6 linked regions of the Homo sapiens genome follow. The protein of the gene in region 6 purifies or fractionates together with the protein of the main gene of each other region. This does not show direct contact. Each region holds a gene or a part of one and is shown on either strand. Other genes may lie near its edges. The genes, in order: CLINT1, NCS1, DNAJA3, AP2A2, CLTB and MAP3K9.

Region 1 (3,538 bases), on a different chromosome or scaffold from region 6:
TAAATCCTGATAGTTAGGTTTTACATATATATTTTTAAACTTGGTAAGATATTCTACAATGATTTTACCATATATACTTTTGAGAATGCTAAGAACATGTAATCACACACACACAAAAATCTGAACATTTTCTCAGAGGATATATTTAGCTGGTGAGTGGTACAGATGCCATATCTGCTTAGCTTTACAGTTTGTGCCCACATTACTTGCATGATGGTACTATTATAAATATGGGCACATCTGGTAAATGACACCCAAATGACATACCAAATAGCAATGTTAATATGGTAGATTCTTATACCTTCTCGTGTAAGTGCTAAAGATTTAATGCCCAATTTCCTTTCACTGCTGAATTCAATTTAAAATATATTATTAAAATATTTAAATAGAGATTGGGAGTAACTAAATTTATGTACTGATTGAAGAGGGAGCTGCACAAACTGGTTAAACATACGGTTTCAAATAGGAGATAACTTTAATTTTAAAAAATTCTTCTAATATCAATCTCTATTAGTTGCTTTTTATTAAGATAAAATAAAATTTAAGGCAAGAAACCTCCTAGATTTCATTCAAACTTTCTCAGTTACTATATTAATATCAATTGCTACTTCTATTTAATTAGTCAAACTACTGTTTGCACTGGAGAAGACAAACCACTCAAAGGTTCCTTGCCAAGTAAAGGAAGCATGTTGGTATTTAATAAATCTCTCTGTTCAAAGCAATCTTGATGTCACAGAGGAAAAGTTACATCCACCCATCTGACCTTCCTAGTTAATTCTTCTCTGATTGCTCCATTAAAACTTTTCACAGATGCATGAAAGGGGCCCTTTAAATATTTCATGCCAGGAAGTCCAAAATAGTTGATATTCTGTGACACTATATCTGTATTATATGACTACATGCTAACTACCAGTTAATTCTACAGTTCAAATCTTAAACATATAAAAATATATCACATAAATTGTTACACAACTAATGTAGCTGTCCGTAACCTTGGGCATTACAGTCCAATCAAGTTTAATGAATAATTTTAGGAACAGTTTGCAGTTACAGAAAAACGGGAAAGGGAATTGAAGAATTTCAGAAAGTAGGCTGGCCAGGCATGGTGGCTCACGCCTGTAATCCCAGCACTTTGGGAGGCCAAAACAGGTGGATCACCTGAGGTCAGGAGTTTGAGACCAAGCTGGCCAACATGGAGAAACCCTGTCTCTACTAAAAATACAAAAATCAGCCGGGCGTGGTGGCGCATGCCTGAAATTCCAGCTACTCAGGAGACTGAGGCAGGAGAATCGCTTGAACCCGGGAGGCAGAGGTTGCAGTGAGTCAAGACTGTGTACTGCACTCCAGCCTGGGCAACAAGGGCGAAACTCTGTCTCAAAAAAAAAAATAGAGAAAGAAAGTAGGTCAAACCAGATGTCTGGGCTGGGTGCAGTGGCTCACACCTGTAATCCCAGCACTTCGGGAGGCTGAGGCAGGCAGATCACCTGAGGTCAGGAGTTCGAGACCAGCCTGGCCAACACAGTGAAACTCCGTCTCTACTAAATATACAAAAATTAGCCAGGCATGGTGGCAGGTGACTGTAATCCCAGCTACTCGAGAAGCTTAGGCAAGAGAATTGCTTGAATAAAGTTCATGCCTAATCCAAGAATTTTAACATAGTAGGTAAGGAGGAGGAAATAATAGGGGGCTTTATATTACATTAATTATACTAAACTATCAGTGAAAAGTAATTTCCAGCATAGACTTACACTTAAAGGTTAAGTTAAAGTTTTTTTTTTTTTGAGACAAGAGTCTTGCTCTGTCACTCCAGCTGGAGTGTAGTGGCATGATCTCAGCTCATTGCAAACTCCACCTCCTGGGTTCAAGCGATTCTCCTGCCTTAGTCTCCTGAGTAGCGGGGATTAAAGGTGCCCATCACCACGCCAAACTAATTTTTGTAGTTTTAGTAGAGACAGGGTTTCACCATGTTGGCCATGCTGGTCTTGAACTCCTGACCTCAGGTGATCCGCCTGCCTCGGCCTCCCAAAGTGCTGGGATTACAGGTGTGAGCCACTGTGCACAGCCACAATTCGGCTTTGAAAAATCATTACACACAACTGGGAATAATAAATTTACTTTGCACATTAGTCATACCCCCATCTTACTGTCTACATTTTAATGTGAAATGAACTTAGGCTTGGAAAGACTGTCTTTAAACAGAAGATGTATTTGTTAAACTATTTTGACACGTCACACAATAGTTTATTAAAACTCCATAATCATCAAATACAACCCTAAAAATATCAATTTTCTTGAAAACAATTGATCAGAAATTACTCAAAATCTAGCACATACTGGAAATCAAACTGAAGAAATCATCAATCTCATCTATGAGAAATTCAAGGTAAACAGTTCTTTTGCTGTAGCCCTCTCTTTTTTTTTTTTTTTTCCGAGATGGAGTTTTTCACTGTTGTTGCCCAGGCTGGAGTGCAATGGCGCAATCTCCGTTCACTGCAACCTCCGCCTCCCGGGTTCAAGTGATTCTCCTGCCTCAGCCTCCCGAGTAGCTGGGATTACAGGTACCTGCCACCATACCCGGCTAATTTTTGTATTTTCAGTAGAGACAGGGTATCACCATGTTGGCCAGGCTGGTCTCGAACTCCTGATCTCAGGTGATCCACCTCCCTCGGCCTCCCAAAGTGCTGGGATTACAGGGGTCAGCCACCACGCCCAGCCGCCCTCTTTAAATATGTTTGGTAGTTACATACTTTCAGAGAATGTCATTCCTCTGACTGAAGCACTTGCCATTGTTTATCACTAGATAACTATTTGTGACTCTGATTAATGATTATTTTCTCCACTTGACCTTCGCATGAGGACAACAACTCTGTTTTTTACAAGCACCCAGATCAGTGTCTGGTTCAACAAATATTTGTTCAATTAAAAGAATAAAAAGTTAAATGATCTCTAGGCATGCCCAAGGTGACAGCTGCAATTAAAATTTAGGGAAAGACAGTAAAATGCGCAGAGCAGTACCTTTTGCTTATAAAGAAAGTAAAGGCAACAGTTTAAATGCAATTTTTTGTTTCTCCAAGTTAATCTTAAAAATTAAAAATGGAAACTATAGATTCCAAAATCTATGATGAAAAATTTCAGAAAGTACATGATGCCTTGAAATACTATTTATTATTAATTAGGGAAGACACAGTACATCAGGTATGAGGAGTCATTAAAATCTAAGTATGATAATGATTTGAGGATACTATTATTAACCACCAATAAGTACTGACCACAAACAAAGTTTTGCTAGTCTGAGGGTGGGTCAGAAAAAGGTATAAAATAGGGATAGAGAAATGGGTGTACATATAAAAAGATAAGCAAAAATAACACAATGATTCCAAATAATGCTCAAGACTCACTAATTTCATATAAAAAATGAACCCAATGCAAATAAGTAATCTTATTTTTCAATCTATCTTTTATTTGGCATTTTAAAAAATGACTCTCAAACCAAAAGAAAAGGCCAATGTAGAAGCTTACCTGTTGACTGGCTGGTGCC
Region 2 (3,538 bases), on a different chromosome or scaffold from region 6:
AAAAAAAAAAAAAAAAATTATCCAGGCATGATGGCACATGCCTGTAATCCCAGCTACTCGGGAGGCTGAGGGAGGAGAATTGCTTGAACCTGGGAGGCAGAGGTTGCAGTGAGCCGAGATCACACCACTGCACTCCAGCCTGGGCAATAAGAGTGAGACTGTCTCAAAAGAAAAAAAATAAAATAAAAGGAACCATAGACACTGGAGCCTACTTGAGGGTGGAGGGTGAGAGGAGGGTGAGGATCGAAACCCACCTATTATCAGGTACTATGCTTATCACCTGAGTGACAAAATAGTCTGTACAGCAAACCCCCACAACACAGGATTTACCTATATAACAAACCTGCACATGTATCCTTGAGCCTAAAATAAAAGCCTAAAAAAAGGGACTCCAAAGAAATAAGGAATCCTTCTTTAAATCAAACTTACTTAAAACTAAAATAACTTAAATGTAAATTTGAAATAATGACGTTAGGGAAATCCAGGTGTTACGTGCCTTCAGCAAAATAACATAAAATGGTCAGGTGCGGTGGCTCACACCTGTCATCCCAGCACTTTGGGAGGCCAAGGCGAGTGGATCACTTGAGCTCAGGAGTTTGAGACCAGCCTGGGCAACGTGATGAAACCCCGACTCTACAAAAAATACAAAAATTAGCCGGGTGTGGTGGTGTGCACCTGTGGTCCCAGCTACTCGGGAGGCTGAAGTGGGAGGATGGCTGGAGCCTGAGAAACCAAGTCTGCTGTGAGCCGTGATGGTGCCATTGCACTCCAGCCTGGGTGACAGAGTGAGACCCTGTCTCAATCAATCAATCGATCAGTCAATCATAGAAATTCCTGTAACGCAGGGCTGCTTATTAGATTCTGGCTGGAGACAGCTGTTTGCCCTAAAAGCTTTGACCTGAGGCCTGTACTTTCTTAATTAAAAAAGGGAGATTAGCCCATGTTAGAGGAGTGGTAGAGACGTGCTGGCCTCAGACCCAGCTGGCGTCTTGGTAATGATCAAAAGATTTATCGACAGAGTGTGGAGCACGGAATAATAAGTTTCTCGTGGTGTGCGTCCACGTGGCTTAAGGCCAAGGCCGCACATTCCTTACTGTCCCCCTGTCTGCACTTCCGTCATTTTGGGAAACAGCACAGACCCTGTAGTCACACTGACTGGGGTGTGAATCTGACTTCTCCGTTTCCCAGCCCTGGGGCCTGGGTAGGTGACGGAGCCTCAGCTTCCTCACTGGTAAAATGGGGATGAGAGCAGCACCCCCTTCTTGGCTTGGCCGTGAGGGTTCCATACACTGAGGGTTGCGCCGAGCTTGGCATATGTCGTGTACGCAGCGAGCGATCCCTGAGCACAGCTCGGTTGTGCTCATCGGCGCTGTTTTCGGCACTTACCCTCTCTGGATACCCGAGATCGAGTAGGTGCTCTCCGTGGCCTTTTCCTTGTGGTCCGCCGGCTTCCTTGAGAGATGCTCCGGGGAAGGGATTCTGGCCCAAACATCCCCTCCCCGAGAGACCCACTAAAATTCCTCTTTCTGAGCCATGTCCAGCCCCCTGCCGGGTCTCCCAGGGTCCAGTGTGGGCTGCTCCAGGAGCAGTTTAAATGCCCTTCCAAGAGTGACCCCAGAGAACTGCACGAGGCTCTCAGCCTTGTCAGTTACTCACATTGATGGGGTTTAATAGCATTAACCATGACACGTGTGGAGTTACAGGGCACTTCCAGTTGGTCAAGCACAGAGCTGTCACCCGAGTGCCTGGAGGAAGCCAGGTAATTACCCTCCATCCCCAGGTGAAGAAACATGCCCAGAGAGGTGGGCCACGGCCCAAGGCCACCCTGCCATGAGTGCCGAGGTCTGTCTGGTGCTGGCTGCTTGTAGGCCCTGAGCCACGTTGCCTCCCTCCTGATCTAACCTTGGAAGGGCTCTTGGGACCGGCCCTGGGCTGGGCTTGTCTAGAGCCCTCTCCTGGGAGGCCCTGCACCCTCAGCCGCCTCTCTCTGCTCACAGAATGCCGACGGGAAGCTGACCCTGCAGGAGTTCCAGGAGGGTTCCAAGGCAGACCCGTCCATTGTGCAGGCGCTGTCCCTCTACGACGGGCTGGTATAGTCCCAGGCTGGAGCTGGGTGAGTGCAGACTCGGGGCCTGGGGTGGGTCTGGGATGGGTCAGGGGTGAAAACCCAGCAGCAGGACACCTACGGTTGGCAGGTAATTACCTGGGTCTCTGGGGGTGTTGTGGTCAGCCTAGCAGGGACATAGCTGGGAGGAGGAGGCTGGAAGGGGGGCCTTCAAATTGGTCAGAGCTCCTCTGTTTTGATCATTTTTATAGACCCAGATCAGCCTGCGAGTTTGCTTGAACAGAATTTTTCTGGGCGCGGTGGCTCACGCCTGTAATCCCAGCACTTTGGGAAGCTGAAGCAGGCGGATCACCAGGTCAGGAGTTCAAGACCAGCCTGACCAACATGGTGAAACCCCGTCTCTACTAAAAATACAAAAATCAGGCGGGCGTGGTGGTGCGCACCTAGTCTCAGCTACTTGGGAGGCTGAGGCAGGAGAACCGCTTGAACCCAGGAGGTGGAGATTGCAGTGAGCCGAGATCGTGCCACTGCACTCCAGCCTGGGTAACAGAGTGAGACTCCATCTCAAAAAAAAAAAAAAAAAGAAAAGAAAAAAAAAAAAAGAAAAGAATTGTCCTGGGTGGAAGACACTTTGAAAATTAGTTCCCAACCAGGGCCAGGGACCTGGGAGAGCAATTTCTTATCCCCTCTCTGAGCAGCCGGTTGAAGACCTAACTAAGCTCCTAGCTGTCACAGAATGATAGCACGCCTGGCAGAGGCCCCTGTTGCTGGTAGAGAGCTGTCTCCCTTCTTTCCTTCTCCTCTCCTCCCTTCTCCCCTTTTTTCCTGCCTCTTCTTTGTGGAGTGTTCAATGTAGTCTGCGGGGAGTGGGTGTGAATAACGTCCAAGGTATTGTCCAGAGATCAGCGTTCTTGTCCACGTCCTGGTGAACCAGTGGATGCCTGCTGTTGGTGTATATGTAAGGGTAGAATTGCTGGGACATAGGATATGTGTAATATTTAGCTTTGGTAGTTACTAGAAAACAGTTTCCAAAGTGGTTGTGCTGTTTTGCGGTCCCACTAGTAGTGTATGAGAGTTCCAGTTGCTCCACATCCTTGCCAACACTGGGTATTTTCTGTCTTTTCAAATTTTAGCCATTTTTGTGAGTATGGAGTAATAACTTGTTCTAAGTTTACTTTGCATTTCTCTGATAAGCAGTGACGTTGAATGCCTTGTTATAAGTGTATCACCCATTTTAATGTGCTCATTTGTGATGTGCTAGGTTAGTTATCCATTGCTACATATTACATTACCACAAACAGCAGCTTAAGAACAAACATTAGGAATTTGGCACAGTTAAGCTGGGTGCCTCTGGCTCAAGGACTCTCAGGAGTATGCAGTTCAGCTGTCAATAGGGTTTGCCCAGGTCTATCCTGGATTTAGCAGTGCAAGTTCCCTGTTCTAGGAAACTTCTCAGTCCCGGGAAAATTGGGA
Region 3 (3,538 bases), on a different chromosome or scaffold from region 6:
AATCAAAAAAAAAAAAAAAAGAGTTGAGGTCTCACTCTGTTACCTAGGCTGGAGTGTAGTGGCGAGATCACAGCTCACTGCAGTCTCAAACTCTTGGGCTCAAGCAGTTTTCCTGCCTCAACCTCAACTTCCTGAGTAGCTGGGACTACAGGTTCCCCACTGCACCCAGAAGATTCAATTTTTAATGGGGCGGGGGGGTGTTATTCTTGTGAATGTGTTTTTCCACATGGTTAGTTGATCTGATGTTTCTGCCAGGGGCATGAGTTTTGGAGAGTCCTAATCCACCGTGTTGCTGACTTCTGTCTTCAAGGGGGATGTTATTAAACGGACCGAGCCTCAGAACCTAAGAGCAGCAATTCCTTGGGAAGGGCTGGAACCAGGAGATAAAACCCACCAGGAAGTCATGAACTCCCACCTGACTCCTCCTCTGCCAGCCTTCCTCCTTTGCATCTTAACTGGGTGCCCTAAAAGTTACCCTAGGCACCAAGCTGTCCTCCACCTGCTTTCTTAGTCCCCCTCCATTCTAGGTGGAAGTGTCTTTTCCTTTGGAGGAAGCGTACTCTTTTCTGTTTGGCCTTAAGGATAGTGCCTATTTTTTTGAGATAGTGTCTCACTTTGTTGCCCAGGCTGGAGTGCAATGGTGCAATCACGGTTCACTGCAGCCTCAACCTCAACCTCCGTGCTCAAGCAATCCTCCCACCTCAGCCTCCCAAGTAGCTGGAACTATAGGCGTGCACCACCATTCTTGGTTAATTTTTTTGTATTTTTCTTGTGATGGGGTTTCACCATGTTGCCCAGGCTGGTCTTGAACTCATGAACTCAAGCAGTCCACCTGCCTTGGCCTCCCAAAGTCCTGGGATTACAGGTGTGAGCCACCATACTCAGCCTAGGGCAGTGTCTTTTTAATTAAAGAAAAAAAAAGTAAGACAAACACATAAAAAAAAGATACAAAGTGAGGGCCAGGCACGGTGGCTCACGCTTGTAATCCCAGCACTTTGGGAGGCTGAGGCAGACGGATCACGAGGTCAAGAGATCGAGACCATCCTGGCAAACGTGGTGAAACCCTGTCTCTACTAAAAATACAAAAAAATTAGCTGGGCGTGGTGGTGCATGTCTTTAGTCCCAACTACTCGGGAGGCTGAGGCAGGAGAATCACTTGAACCCGAGAGGCAGAGGTTGCAGTGAGCCGAGATCGCGCCACTGCACTCCAGCCTGGCGACAGAGCAAGACTCCCGTCTCAAAAAAAAAAAAAAAGATACAAAGTGAATACTACATTTTTCCTTGTCCCTCCCTAATCCCCCTTTTTGAGGTAGTTAGTCCTTATTAACAGTTTTGTGGGCCAGGCCCAGTGGCTCATGCCTGTAATCCCAGTATTTTGGGAGGTCGAAGTGGGAGGATCGCTTGAGGCCAGGAGTTTGAAAGCAGCCTGGGCAACATAGCAAGACCCTGTCTCTACAAAAACTTAAAACAATTTGCCAGGACTGGTGGTGTGCACCTGTAGACCCAGCTACTGTGGAGGCTGAGGCAGGAGGATTGCTTCAACCTGGGAGGTTGAGGCTGCAGTGAGCTAGGATTGCACCACTGCTATTGTCGTTGCTGTTACTTCTGTTACTCCGGTTGTTCTGGCTTGCAGAAAACCTTTCGATGAAGGTAAGGGTAGGAAGCATAAATTCTCTACGAGGTAATGTCCCCTGAGGAGAGAGGTGAAGTGTGAATCTGTGAAGAATCCAGGGTGCCTGTGAGGTCAAGCGAGGATCAACACAAACATTTTCCCAGCATGCGCGACGGCGGGAGAGTTCGTGAGACTTTTGGAAGCACTTCACGCCCTACACTTAGCATTCAGTTTGGTCATCTCATCCCTCTTCTAGGTGCTAGTCACAGGCCCACCCCAACCTCATAGGATGTGTTTGCACACAGGGCCACTTAATAAATGTTATGGCTGCCTTATTTGCTGTGAACTCTTGTCTGTATTCCTGGGCCTTGGTAGACCTGGGATGCCCAGTGGCTCTGCCTTTCACTGTAGGTTTTGAGTGATGAGGTGAAGAGGAAGCAGTACGATGCCTACGGCTCTGCAGGCTTCGATCCTGGGGCCAGCGGCTCCCAGCATAGCTACTGGAAGGGAGGCCCCACTGTGGACCCCGAGGAGCTGTTCAGGAAGATCTTTGGCGAGTTCTCATCCTCTTCATTTGGAGATTTCCAGACCGTGTTTGATCAGCCTCAGGAAGTAAGTTCCTCACTTGGAAGAATTATTCAAATTTTAGACTAAGTATGGGTCAAACAAATTTTTTTATCAGTTTCTGTTTCTCAGAAAGGCAAGGCAGCTTAAATGGAGTGATCTGGAGGCAGCCATTTTAGTAGAAAATAATTTCAGTATTTGAAAAATCGCATAGGTAGTAATGAGTATGTCCATTCTGATGGTATTCTTAACAGTTGCATAATGAGGTAGCACCTAAGGCTTTCAGAGCCCATGAGGGTGTGAGTGTTGTCTCTCATCTGCTACAGTATTCCAGGAGAGTTCTGTCCGGTGGGAAGGCACTGCTGATCCTCTCTCATTTATGTCCTTATAAGACACTGTCAGAGTGGAAGAGAGAGGGGATATATTTATGATCTAAATTATGATTGTGGATCATTCAGGCTGTTTTTAAGTGCCATGTACGAGTATTTATCTGTGAACATTTTCAGTCTGTTGAAAGTACGTTTTCATTTAAGTCATACATTATCTCTTAAAAATCCCAAAGAGTAGGGCAGAATTCGTTCAGTGAGTCCTACCTATGCTTACTTGGCAGAGTGCAAGTAAGTACAGTGGTGAAAGAGTGACTGAAAATGTGGGCCAGTACCCTCCTTTCCCTTTAGAGCCGAGCGTCAGTTTTGGTCGTTGCAAACAAAAGTTGACAGGCTGTCCCTTGGTTTCTTTAGTACTTCATGGAGTTGACATTCAATCAAGCTGCAAAGGGGGTCAACAAGGAGTTCACCGTGAACATCATGGACACGTGTGAGCGCTGCAACGGCAAGGGGAACGAGCCCGGCACCAAGGTGCAGCATTGCCACTACTGTGGCGGCTCCGGCATGGTAAGGCTCTGCCCGAGACTCCACCTCCCACGGCTTGCACCACTGACTGAGAAGAGCTGGTTGTGGCACTGCTCCCAGAGAACGTATGCTGGGAATTGGGGGAGTTGGTGAACTCAGCCTGGCTGTCTTTCCCCCGTGACCCTGAGGAGACGAGCCTGTGCTCCTCTTTCCCTGATACCACAGGCTCAGCAACCAGAGCACAGCAGCTCCGGGGGCGGGGCGGGGGATTGCATCCAGTTGTCACTTTCTTCTTTATTTTTCTAACAATTGCTTTGGTAATTCAAGGGGAAATAATCTTTTTTAAATGTACTGTTCAGCTCCCAGGAGTCTTCAGGTACTTCTGTAGACAGGCGGTATCATATTTTTCAGTGTCGTGTGGTCAAGTTGATGATCTGGAGTGCAGAAGTTTGTGTGTTCTAGAAAATCAGATGAACAGATTGAGGCCCTGCACCTGGGTTCCTAGGCAGTG
Region 4 (3,538 bases), on a different chromosome or scaffold from region 6:
GCCCTGTCTCTTGATTCATGGACCTTTCTGCCAGTGCTGCTGTATGCGCTGGCTTTCGTGGAGCAGTTATTGCAGAGCCTACAGTTTTGTTAGTGTTTGGGTCTATTTGTGCTTTTATAGTATCAGATTTGTGCAGGTTTTCTTTTTGAGATGGAGTCTCCCTTTGTTGCCCAGGCTGGAGTGCAGTGACGCGACCTCAGCTCACTGCAACCTCTGCCTCCCGGGTTCAAGCGATTCTCCCACCTCATCTTCCTGAGTAGCTGGGATTACAGGCACCTGCCATCATACCCGGCTAACTTTTGCGTTTTTGTAGAGACGGGGTTTCACCATGTTGGCCAGTCTGTTCTTGAACTCCTGACCTCAGGTGACTGGCCTGCCTCGGCCTCCCAAAGTGCTGGGATTACAGAAGTGAGCCACCGTGCCCGGCCTGTCTCAGTTTTGTAAATGCTTCCAGCTGGGTACACAAATGTGAATGAACTATATTAAAAATGCTCTCATGATGTATGGGTGCAGCCGGGAGGGGCAGGGTGGGCTGCGGGCCACTGGAGACTGGTGAGCACCGTTCTGTCTTGCCCAGAAGACCCTGCAGTGCGAGGCCGCCTGACTGAGTGCCTGGAGACCATCCTGAACAAAGCCCAAGAACCGCCCAAGTCGAAGAAGGTCCAGCACTCCAACGCGAAGAATGCCGTGCTCTTCGAGGCCATCAGCTTAATCATTCACCATGACAGGTGTGTCGGCTGCCTGTGGAGAGGCTTCGTCTCGCGCACACACACACGTTCCTTCTCGTTGGCACGAGACTGGGCGGATCATGTCTGGTTTGTCCACTCCATGGGCCTCCCCTTCGTCCTGCCTCTGTGCTCCCTGCCGGATGCTTTTTTTCTTTCTGTGCAGCCCGGCCCCTCCTGCTCTGAGCTCACCGTGGATTGCTTTGGTGACTGTGGTCTCATCCCACACGAGGGCCTTTTCCTCCTTCCCCTGAGCATCCCCACTCCTGACTGGCTTCTCATGTAGTGGAACAGAGAGGAGACGGGTGGGGTGGGGGGTGTGCGCGCATGTCCCGTGGCTTTGCTGGATGTGGAGCCGCACTTGGTGGGTCCAGGGTCGCAGGGCAGTGCTGGAAACGTCTGTGCCCATCCACGAAGCGCAGAGGCGCAGGGTGGCGGTCGCTCCACACAGCCTGGAGGGTCTGCCTCCTCTGCTCCCACGCCTTCTCTGCTCAGCAGTTGCGGCGCACCACATGTGGTCTGGCGTGGGTCTTGCGTGTGGGGCCATGCTTTAGGGTCCTGTGAGAATGAGATCGCAGTTCTCACCAGGCTCCCAATAATGAGGGCACGTGCCAGGCTGTGGGCAGACGCTCTCTACAGCTTGTGAACACCACCCATTTGCTACTACAGCATTTTTACAAATGATGAAAACTCAGTCTGAGAGTCACACTTCAGAACTGAGAGTTATTAAAACTGAAATTTCCCATTTTGGAGAAAGCTCTGTTGTTATGTGAGGAGAAGCCACATCCTGAGGAGACAGTAGAGTCAGTGGGGCAGCAGCCGCGCTCCCGGCCTTCTCGGCCTTCTCCCTGCCCTGGGCTGGTGCCTCTGGCTGAGACCCCATTGCCGGTCACAGCTTGACCGGCCTCCCGCGGGCCTGATGCAGATTGAGGCTCAGGAGGTGCTGGGAAGGCTCCAGTGGACACACGGGCTGCTGACTCACTGTGGGGATGCACAGGATGGACACAAAATGGATGTCAGGGGTGGGGGTCGGGCGTCATCTGCATCTGGGGAGGCCCCCGAGTTCCCACTTGAGCAGTGTGGTGGCGGTGAGTGCCGTGTGACTTTGCTGTCTGCCATCTGGACCCGTCGGGGAACGCAGACTCTGTCCAGTTTGTGTTGCACTTGCTGAGGAAACCCCACCCACTTCCCCTCCCTCCACACAGTGAGCCGAACCTGCTCGTCCGTGCCTGCAACCAGTTGGGCCAGTTTCTGCAGCACCGCGAGACCAACCTGCGCTACCTGGCCCTGGAGAGCATGTGCACGCTGGCCAGCTCTGAGTTCTCCCATGAGGCTGTCAAGACGCACATCGAGACGGTCATCAACGCCCTGAAGGCGAGTGCCCTGTCCTTGGGTTCTGCTCACTCCCTGAGCAGGTGCCGTGGGTCTTCCTGTGAAGGCTGGGGGTACGCAGTGCCTCCTGACTCCCCGCAGAGATGGAGGTGGTGCTGGTGCTGCTGGCCTCCGCCTGTCACCTACTCTTGGGAGGTCACACCACTGTTGAGGGCCATGCTGCCTGGAGATGGCCGGGTTGGCCCTGCTGTCCTGGTTAGGCTGAGCAGAGGAGTCTCTGGCAGCCCTTTCCCTGCTGGGGGCAGCCCCCGTGTGCCATCCTGCGCGTGCATAGTGCTGACAAGTAGAAATGGTTCTTCTTGGTAGAAAGATGAAATTTTTTTCCCTTATCTCCAAGAAAATCCCCCTTTTACAAAGGAAACTCACTTTGTTCGGGGATTAAAATTTCAGAGTTGGGGCCGGGCGCGGTGGCTGACGCCTGTAATCCCAGCACTTTGGGAGGCCGAGGCGGGTGGATCACAAGGTCAGGAGATCGAGACCATCCCGGCTAACACGGTGAAACCCCGTCTTTACTAAAAATGCAAAAAAAAATTAGCCGGGCGTGGTGGCGGCCGGTGCCTGTAGTCCCAGCTACTCAGGAGGCTCAGGCAGAAGAATGGCTTGAACCCAAGAGGCGGAGCTTGCAGTGAGCCGAGATCGCGCCACTGCACTCCAGCGTGGGCGACAGAGCGAGACTCCGTCTCAAAAAAAAAAAAAAATTTCAGAGTTGGAAGAGCCCAGTTGAGGTTGGCCATTGCCAGCCTTTGCGAGTCTCCAGAGCGACCCCGAGGGTTCGTTCCACATAGGGGACCCTGCGGTGTGTCCACCAAGTCCCTAGTCACCGGTGCACATGCGTTAGGGAGTGGGAGGCGGGGAGCTGCATGTCCCCCATCTGGCTCAGCCTCAGGCTGTGGCAGGGCTGCTCCCAGTCCCCCGCACGTCTGCGTGCAGCTCACAGATATTCCGGGTGGTGTGCAAGGGGCTCGTGGTGGGCATTTGGTATTCTGGATTCTTCTTGGTCCTGGTTTTGGTGTTTGTTTTAGTCAATCCCTATTGTCAGAAGGGCTGGACACTCATTTGCACACGGCCAGTGCTAGCGCTGGTGGTGCCCACTCTCCTGCCTTTGTTGGGAGCAGAGCTCGGGCTTTCTCGTGCTGCAGAGCCTCCTGGGGGCCCATCAGCACGGGCTCTGGGGTGGGGCGTGAGGACCTGCCTTGGGGCAGCTCCGTGTCCGAGGCAGTGGGGTCTTTGGCTGCATGGAAGGGAGTCCTTGATGGCCTGCACCAGGCAGTGCGCTCAGTCCTAGCGAAGCTGGCCCTTGTGGAGGGCAAGGGAGGCATGGACGAGCGGGCAGAATCCAGGCAGTGCGCTGGGTCCTAGCGAAGCTGGCCTGTGCGGGAGGGCCGGGCCAGCAGGCGGAACTCTATTCCGGGCTGTCCAGA
Region 5 (3,538 bases), on a different chromosome or scaffold from region 6:
AAGGACCACTAGAGATCGAGATTGATGGGCAGTAGCCTCAGGTTGCCCATGGTGATGTCTGGTTTTGGGAGGGAGAGGTCAAGTGGCCCACAGCAGCATGAGATGAAGGCAGCGCAAGGCCTTCCCTCACCACTGACGGGAGGCAGAACCCAGGCCATCTCCACACACAGGGCGGGCCCTTTGATCCAGAGATTCCACTTCCAGAATTTTCCCAAAGGAAATAATTGGACAAGGCCACCCAGATTCTTTGCAGGGTTATTTATAATGGCAGACAATTTGGAGACAACCTAAGTGTCCAGCATCAGGGAACTGAATAGATAGATTAGAAAACCAGGCTGTTGTTAAAAAGGGCAATCAGGGCCGGGTGCAGTGGCTGACGCCTGTAATCCCAGCACTTTGGGAGGCTGAGGTGGGTGGATCACGTGAGGTCAGAGTTCAAGACCAGCCTGGCCAACATAGTGAAACCCCGTCTTTACTAAAAATACAGAAAATTAGCCAGTCATTGTGGCAGGTGCCTGTAATTCCAGCTACTCGGGAGGCTAAGGCAGGAGAATCACTTGAACCCAGAAGGTGGAGGTTGCAGTGAGCTGAGATTGTGCCATTGCTCTCCAGCCTGGGAGATGAGAGTGAAACTCTGTCTGAAAAAAAAAAAAAAAAAAAAAAAAGGGCAATCAGATCTTCCTGTATTGACGTGAAAAGATGTCCACAATATATTAAGTGGAAAAAGCAGCTTGCAGAATAATATACACAGTATGGTCCTTTTTTTTTTTTTTTTTTTCAATTTTAAAAATATGTTTGGGCTGGGCGTGGTGGCTCATGCCTGTAACCCTAGCACTTTGGGAGGCCAAGGCAGGTGGATCATGAGGTTGGAAGATTGAGACCATCCTGGCTAACACGGTGAAACCGCACCTCTACTAAAAATACAAAATTAGCTGGGTGTGGTGGCACAAGCCTATAATCCTAACTACTTGGGAGGCTGAGGCAGGAGAATAGCTTGAATCCGGGAGTGGGAGGTTGCGGTGAGCCGAGATCACGCCACTGCACTCCAGCCTGGGCAACAAGAGCAAAACTCTATCTCAAAAAAATAAAACTAAAGGTTTGCACTACATATCTGAAAGGATGTGTACCAGCTGTTAACAATGGTTAGCCCCAAGGGTGGGGTGGGATGGGGATAAGAAAGGGGCATTCACTTTCACTGGGTTGTTTACAAATTCTTTAAGTGTTTTTATCCTGCAAAAAACGAGGAAAACCCAGCCGGGCACGGCGGCTTACGCCTGTAATCCCAGATTTTGGGAGGCCAAAGTGAGAAGATCATGTGAATCCAGGAGTTTGAGACCAAACTGGGCAACATAGTAAGACCCCATTTCTGCAAAAAATGAAAAATTAGCTGGGGCAATAGTGTGTGCCTATAGTCCCAGCTACTCAGTAGTCTTAGGTGGGAGGATTACAGCTTGAGCTGGGGAGGTCCAGGCTGCAGTGACTATGATTACACTACTACACTTAGCCTGGGTGAGTCTTTTTTTTTTTTTTTTCCTGAGATGGAGTTTTGCTCTTATTGCCCAGGCTGGAGTGCAATGGCACGATCTCGGCTCCCTGCAGCCTCCGCCTCCTGAGTTCAAGTGATTCTCCTGCCTCAGCCTCCTGAGTAGCTGGGATTACAGGCACCCGCCACCACGCCTAGCTAATCTTTTGTATTTTTAGTAGAGATGGTGTTTCATCATGTTGGCCAGGCTGGTCTCGAACTCCTGACCTTCAAGTGATCCACCCACCTCGGCCTCCCAAAGTGCTGGGATTACAGGCACGAGCCACCGTGCCCGGCATGACAGTCTTAAAAAAAAAAAAAAGAGGAAAACCCTAGTAAGTGTATTTCTAGTTAAGACTGCTTCTGTCCGCACCCACCTAACTCTCTTCCCCTTGCATACACACAAATCCATTTTAGTACTCTGAGGGAACTCAGACCACAGAGGCATGCAATAGTCCTCACCTCGGCCCCCCAGCCAGATGCCTGGTGGGGCTAAACCTCCCCTCAGAGCCTTCATTCCCACTCAGACTGGGCCAAAGAGCCTTGATCCTGGGGTCTTTGGCTGTGGGATCTTCTGAGCCCCGCCCTGGAGGAGCTGGCTTCTTGAATCCTCTGGGGGAGTAAACAATACTTATTTTCTTATGTAAGAGGGATGGGCTGGTACCTTATGCAGGGAGACTGGCCAAGTCCTGTTTCTGGAAAATTACTCAACTATCAGCAAGCTGGAAAAGTCCATCTCTAGGACTTCAGCAGCTTCATGTCTAGTTGGGCCCGAGGGAGTCAAAGAATGAGGATTTGCTTCTGTGCAGCTTGGTAGATCATTAAGACTTAGGCTGCCCAGGCTCTCTGGCCACATTCAGAAGGACTTTGCTTGACCCCACAGTTCTGTGTCCTAAAGTGCACCTGGAGCTGGAGATATGCTTGGAACCACAGAAGTATGTAGAACATGGCCGGGCACAGTGGCTCACGCCTGTAATCCCAGCAGTGGGAGGCTGAGGTGGGTAGATCATTTGAGGTCAGGAGTTCAAGACCAGCCTGGCCAACATGGAGAAACCCTGTCTCTACTAAAAATACAAAAATTGGCTAGGCAGGGTAGTGGTTGCCTGTAATCCCAGCTACTCAGGAGGCTGAGGCAGGAGAACTGCTTGAACCCAGAGGCAGAGGTTGCAGTGAGCTGAGATCGCACACTGCACTCCAGCCTGGACGACAGAGCGAGACTTTGTCTCAAAAAAGAAAGTACCTAGAACACTCTGAGCTGGATCATTTACCTTTCCTAAAGATTAGCATCACGAAGCTCAGAGAGGTGAAGTGGTGAATGCAAAGTCACCCAGGAAATCAGCCACTTCTGGAGTGCACCCCATTTGACTTGGCCCCCCGCCTTCTCCCTCCCGACCTGTCAGCCGTGGGTGAGCTGTGGGTGAATCTGAGGAGCCCGGGGCCTCCTTTCCAATCTGAGTGAGAACTCTTATTCTCACTGTTACTAAGAATCACAGCAGGTGTGTTTATTTGTAAATCATATCACATCAGTGCCATCCGAGAATCCTTACAGGCAGGGCAGGGTCACAGATGAGCTGAATCACTCAGAAGCTTAGTGGCAAAGCCCCAGCTTGCCTACATCTCCTGGGCTCCGACCCGGTGTGCTTTGCATTACGACTCTGTTGCTGGAACTGGCTGGCCACAGCGCCTGGGTCACAGGTGGAAAGCCCCAGCTCTTTAGGATTGAGCATAGCAGGTCTGGCCTGCACCTGCAGGGGGAGGAGAAACCTTGGCCTGTGCACACCCAACACTTTCAAGGATCCCAGACAGAGCTTTTGTGCTTCCTTTCTTCCTCTTTTCTGCAGCCCGTGCACCACCAGCGGGTCCAGCTACAAACCCAGTTGCCAATACAGCCTAAGGACGAGCCTGCCCACAACTATTCCAGTTCCATTTGGCACAGCCAGGGGCAGGGACAGAAGGGCCCTGCAGGACTCCGCCTCCCCACCTCTGCACAGATCCTCTCTCCTTTCCCCTAATACT
Region 6 (3,538 bases):
GTCTTAGTTCCTATTGAAGAAATAAAAGTATATTCTATCCAGACTTGAGTGAAGACCCCTTTAATGTCAGAAATTTTGAGAACTTCTATGTGATATTATTTCTGGTTTTAGTACCTTTTGACTAAAGAAAACACGTGATGAACAAAAGCCATTTTGAATTCAGTAATGTTAAGTGAGTTTTGCATCCTCATCCTTTTAAAAAATAATACATATTTGTCCAAAACATGCATACCTGTCTATAGACTGCTTGGGTATCTATGGATTCACAGTCCCCCTGCAACCGTGCTGCAGCTGCCCAGGGATCTTTGTCCTGGGCCTGTCTTGGCTTAAACAGGACCATCTTGTTAAGATTCTTTCATGGTGTGGGCTTTGTGTCTGGACAGTGGGAAGGCAGCTGGCGATGTGGTGTGAATCCAGCCTTGGGTGTTTTGGTGTGGGAGAGGCTGAGCTGGATGTGCCCTCCATTGCCTGCTACTGATTCTCTTTATTCATTGAAGATCCCCTCAGAGACGTGAGAAAGCTAATGGTTTAAGTACCCCATCAGAATCTCCACATTTCCACTTGGGGTGAGTCTCATCTTCACCCTTTCACCAGCTGTCCTGGTAACAATCTCCCTTCCATTTCCTTGTTCTTACAGCATACCCCATAGAATCAAGCCTCGTTATTGCCAGGGCTGAACTGACTTTTTTGTTTTTGTTTTTGTTTTAAGCAGTACCATTGTGCACCTTGGGAAAATTCCTGTGTTGATCTAATTTTACCATATTCTTCACTCCACTGACCACTCCAATTAGGATACTCCTGGCACTCTTGGTTTTAGAGAGGCTTAGATATGTGGCTATTTATCCTTTGGTCTTCAGCACTGGTTTTGACTTTACTAATCTGGATTTTCCTGGATCCAGAGCTGGAAGTGATGTTACGAGAGTCTCAGTAGGAAGCCCCAGGCTGTGGGTTTGGCAGCAGGCTTATCTCTGACTATATTTTGGTTGAAACCAGTGGTGGTTGGGATGTACTTTAATTTGCTGGTATTTCTGATAGCACTTGAAACAGAATTCTGAACAGCGAAAAAGTTGGTCCTCTGTCTCTCTCAAGATGGCTGGGACTTTGGGGAAAGTGGTCTTTAGTTGAATGATTCTTCCTAGACTTAAAAAAAAAAAAAAAAAGAGCCACTCTGGTCATAATCCCAATATTTCCAGGGCAACCATAGCCCACAGATTCCTCAGTCCTCCCTTTTACTGTCCTCTAGGGAAAAGACCAGTGCTTCTAGGCCTCTGGTTCCCCCCTCCTACAAAGTGGTTGGCAGGGTGCCCAGGCTGTATCCTCGGAGAGTTACCGGCTTTCCATATGGGCTGATGACAGGGATTTGAAAGCGAGCTCCTGTCCTCTGTCTCTCCACCCCCAGACAGACCAAGGGCTCTGCTTCAGCACTGTGCACTACCCACGTAGGTCTGTCCCACAGTGCACTGGGTTGGTGCAGCTTTGTGGGTTGGTTTTGCCTTTTAAAAAGGGGATGGCTTTGAAAGTTGCCTAAGCATGCCATAAAGCTTGGAAGGAAAGCCTGAGAAATGCCTTATGTGGAGTAGCCTGGTCCACCTCTGCTAGCTCGGCTGCCCGGTGCTTGCCTGGCTTCGCAGGTCTTTGCATCACCGTAACTGTCATGCCATGAATGTGTTGTGTCCAGTGTCTGCTTCGAGTGCTTCTCTCTTGAGATGGGCTCAGGCAAGACCCCCAGCCAGCAGGGCCATCCTTATTCTTTCTGTCTGCTTGCCAGCTTGCCCACTAGTTCTTTCTACAGTTCCACAGCAGCATGTGAGGGGGATGGGTCATGTCATTGCCCTTTTCTTCCCTGGAGCATGTGCATTTCTGTTTGTGAAGCAGGTGGGCTTGGTAAGAGTCATTGCCTGTATGTACTCCAAGGTTCTTTGGTAGAATGAAGCAGGCAGGGAGAAACGTCTCCATAGACCCATGGAGCTGAGGGTCAAGTAAGAAAGGTAACCAGTTCTGACAGTTTCCTCTTTTCCTCTGATTCAGCCTCAAGTCCCTGGTAGATGGATATAAGCAGTGGTCGTCCAGTGCCCCCAACCTGGTGAAGGGCCCAAGGAGTAGCCCGGCCCTGCCAGGGTTCACCAGCCTTATGGAGATGGGTAAGCATAGCTCCTCTTGAGAGTCTTGGCTGTCTCCCTGCTCCCTGGGGGCATTCTTGCCCAAGCTTCTAGGACCATTTAAGGACCCCTAGCACTGCTTCATGGAGGAAACATTGGGAATGTTTTTGTTCTAGAATGTTCAGTGTTCTAGAAACTCATACTACACTTGTATTAAGGGGCCGGTATTAGTCAGGGTTCTCCAGAGGGAGAGAACCAATAGCAACCAAAAGGAAGTTTATTAGGGAGAATTGTCTCACACAGTTACAAAGGCAAAGTCCCATGACAGGCCGTCTGCAAGCTGGAGAATGAGAAAAGCCTGTAGTATGGCTCCCAGGGAAGACAGTAGAGTGGCTCAATCCCAGTTTGAAAGCCTTAACACCAGGGAAACCAGCAGTGCAGCTCCCAGTCTGAGGCCTGAGAGCCTCCGAAAGGCCTCAGTTACAAGTCTGAGAGTCCAAAGGCTGAAGAACCTGGACTCTGATTTCCAAGGGCAAGAGGAGAAAAAGTGTCCCTCTCCAGAAGGGAGAAACAGAGAGAGGAAGCTCAGCAAACTGAGCATCCCCCTTTTTCTGCCTGCTTTGTTCTAGCCTTGCTGGCAGCCAGTTGGGTGGTGCCCATCGACATTGAAGGTGGGTCTTCCTCTCCCTGCCCCCTGACTCCCATCTTAGTCTCCCCTGGAAACAGCCTCACAGACACACCCAGCAACTGTGCTTCACCAGCCATGCAGGCATCCCTCAGTCCAGTCAAGTGGATACCCAAGTCACTATCACAGATCCCTTATGAAAGAAATGGCAAATTAGCGGATCTTTTATTCTGCTCTAAGGAAATGGGCTCTGGAATGGAGAGTGGTTTCCCTGTGTTGGGGGGTGGATAAAGCCCCCTTGGTTCAGTGTTCAATTCCATGTCCTGCTCATCACACCATTGAACCTTTGTGTCCCTGAGACTGAGACAGGAGGCCTGGGGTGAGGGGAAAGGGCCAGATTCTTATTCCTGCCACCTCATTTCCATTTCCTGTTTCTCTTCCACTCTTGTCATCTTCACAGAGGATGAGGACAGTGAAGGCCCAGGGAGTGGAGAGAGTCGCCTACAGCATTCACCCAGCCAGTCCTACCTCTGTATCCCATTCCCTCGTGGAGAGGATGGCGATGGCCCCTCCAGTGATGGAATCCATGAGGAGCCCACCCCAGTCAACTCGGCCACGAGTACCCCTCAGCTGACGCCAACCAACAGCCTCAAGCGGGGCGGTGCCCACCACCGCCGCTGCGAGGTGGCTCTGCTCGGCTGTGGGGCTGTTCTGGCAGCCACAGGCCTAGGGTTTGACTTGCTGGAAGCTGGCAAGTGCCAGCTGCTTCCCCTGGAGGAGCCTGAGCCACCAGCCCGGGAGGAGAAGAAAAGAC

What was found.
Region 1: the proteins of MAP3K9 (region 6) and CLINT1 purify together in Homo sapiens (affinity purification with mass spectrometry; one large-scale study listed by BioGRID and IntAct). This does not show direct contact.
Region 2: the proteins of MAP3K9 (region 6) and NCS1 purify together in Homo sapiens (affinity purification with mass spectrometry; 2 studies listed by BioGRID and IntAct, with this or other methods). This does not show direct contact.
Region 3: the proteins of MAP3K9 (region 6) and DNAJA3 purify together in Homo sapiens (affinity purification with mass spectrometry; one large-scale study listed by BioGRID and IntAct). This does not show direct contact.
Region 4: the proteins of MAP3K9 (region 6) and AP2A2 purify together in Homo sapiens (affinity purification with mass spectrometry; one large-scale study listed by BioGRID and IntAct). This does not show direct contact.
Region 5: the proteins of MAP3K9 (region 6) and CLTB purify together in Homo sapiens (affinity purification with mass spectrometry; one large-scale study listed by BioGRID and IntAct). This does not show direct contact.

What each region holds. Positions count from the first base shown.
Region 1 is NC_000005.10:157,800,131-157,803,668, forward strand, and holds part of CLINT1 (clathrin interactor 1), read right to left. Parts: coding exon 3,520-3,538; intron 1-3,519. UniProt on the Homo sapiens protein: Binds to membranes enriched in phosphatidylinositol 4,5-bisphosphate (PtdIns(4,5)P2). May have a role in transport via clathrin-coated vesicles from the trans-Golgi network to endosomes. Stimulates clathrin assembly.
Region 2 is NC_000009.12:130,224,392-130,227,929, forward strand, and holds part of NCS1 (neuronal calcium sensor 1), read left to right. Parts: intron 1-1,997; coding exon 1,998-2,096; 3' UTR 2,097-2,113; intron 2,114-3,538. UniProt on the Homo sapiens protein: Neuronal calcium sensor, regulator of G protein-coupled receptor phosphorylation in a calcium dependent manner. Directly regulates GRK1 (RHOK), but not GRK2 to GRK5. Can substitute for calmodulin. Stimulates PI4KB kinase activity.
Region 3 is NC_000016.10:4,439,352-4,442,889, forward strand, and holds part of DNAJA3 (dnaJ homolog subfamily A member 3, mitochondrial), read left to right. Parts: intron 1-2,023; coding exon 2,024-2,224; intron 2,225-2,916; coding exon 2,917-3,069; intron 3,070-3,538. UniProt on the Homo sapiens protein: Modulates apoptotic signal transduction or effector structures within the mitochondrial matrix. Affect cytochrome C release from the mitochondria and caspase 3 activation, but not caspase 8 activation.
Region 4 is NC_000011.10:984,855-988,392, forward strand, and holds part of AP2A2 (AP-2 complex subunit alpha-2), read left to right. Parts: intron 1-577; coding exon of another isoform or gene 578-580; coding exon 581-728; intron 729-1,930; coding exon 1,931-2,099; intron 2,100-3,538. UniProt on the Homo sapiens protein: Component of the adaptor protein complex 2 (AP-2). Adaptor protein complexes function in protein transport via transport vesicles in different membrane traffic pathways.
Region 5 is NC_000005.10:176,406,534-176,410,071, reverse strand, and holds part of CLTB (clathrin light chain B), read left to right. Parts: intron 1-3,363; coding exon of another isoform or gene 3,364-3,534; exon of another isoform or gene 3,535-3,538. UniProt on the Homo sapiens protein: Clathrin is the major protein of the polyhedral coat of coated pits and vesicles.
Region 6 is NC_000014.9:70,732,989-70,736,526, reverse strand, and holds part of MAP3K9 (mitogen-activated protein kinase kinase kinase 9), read left to right. Parts: intron 1-497; coding exon 498-566; intron 567-2,028; coding exon 2,029-2,141; intron 2,142-2,728; coding exon of another isoform or gene 2,729-2,770; intron 2,771-3,184; coding exon 3,185-3,538. UniProt on the Homo sapiens protein: Serine/threonine kinase which acts as an essential component of the MAP kinase signal transduction pathway. Plays an important role in the cascades of cellular responses evoked by changes in the environment.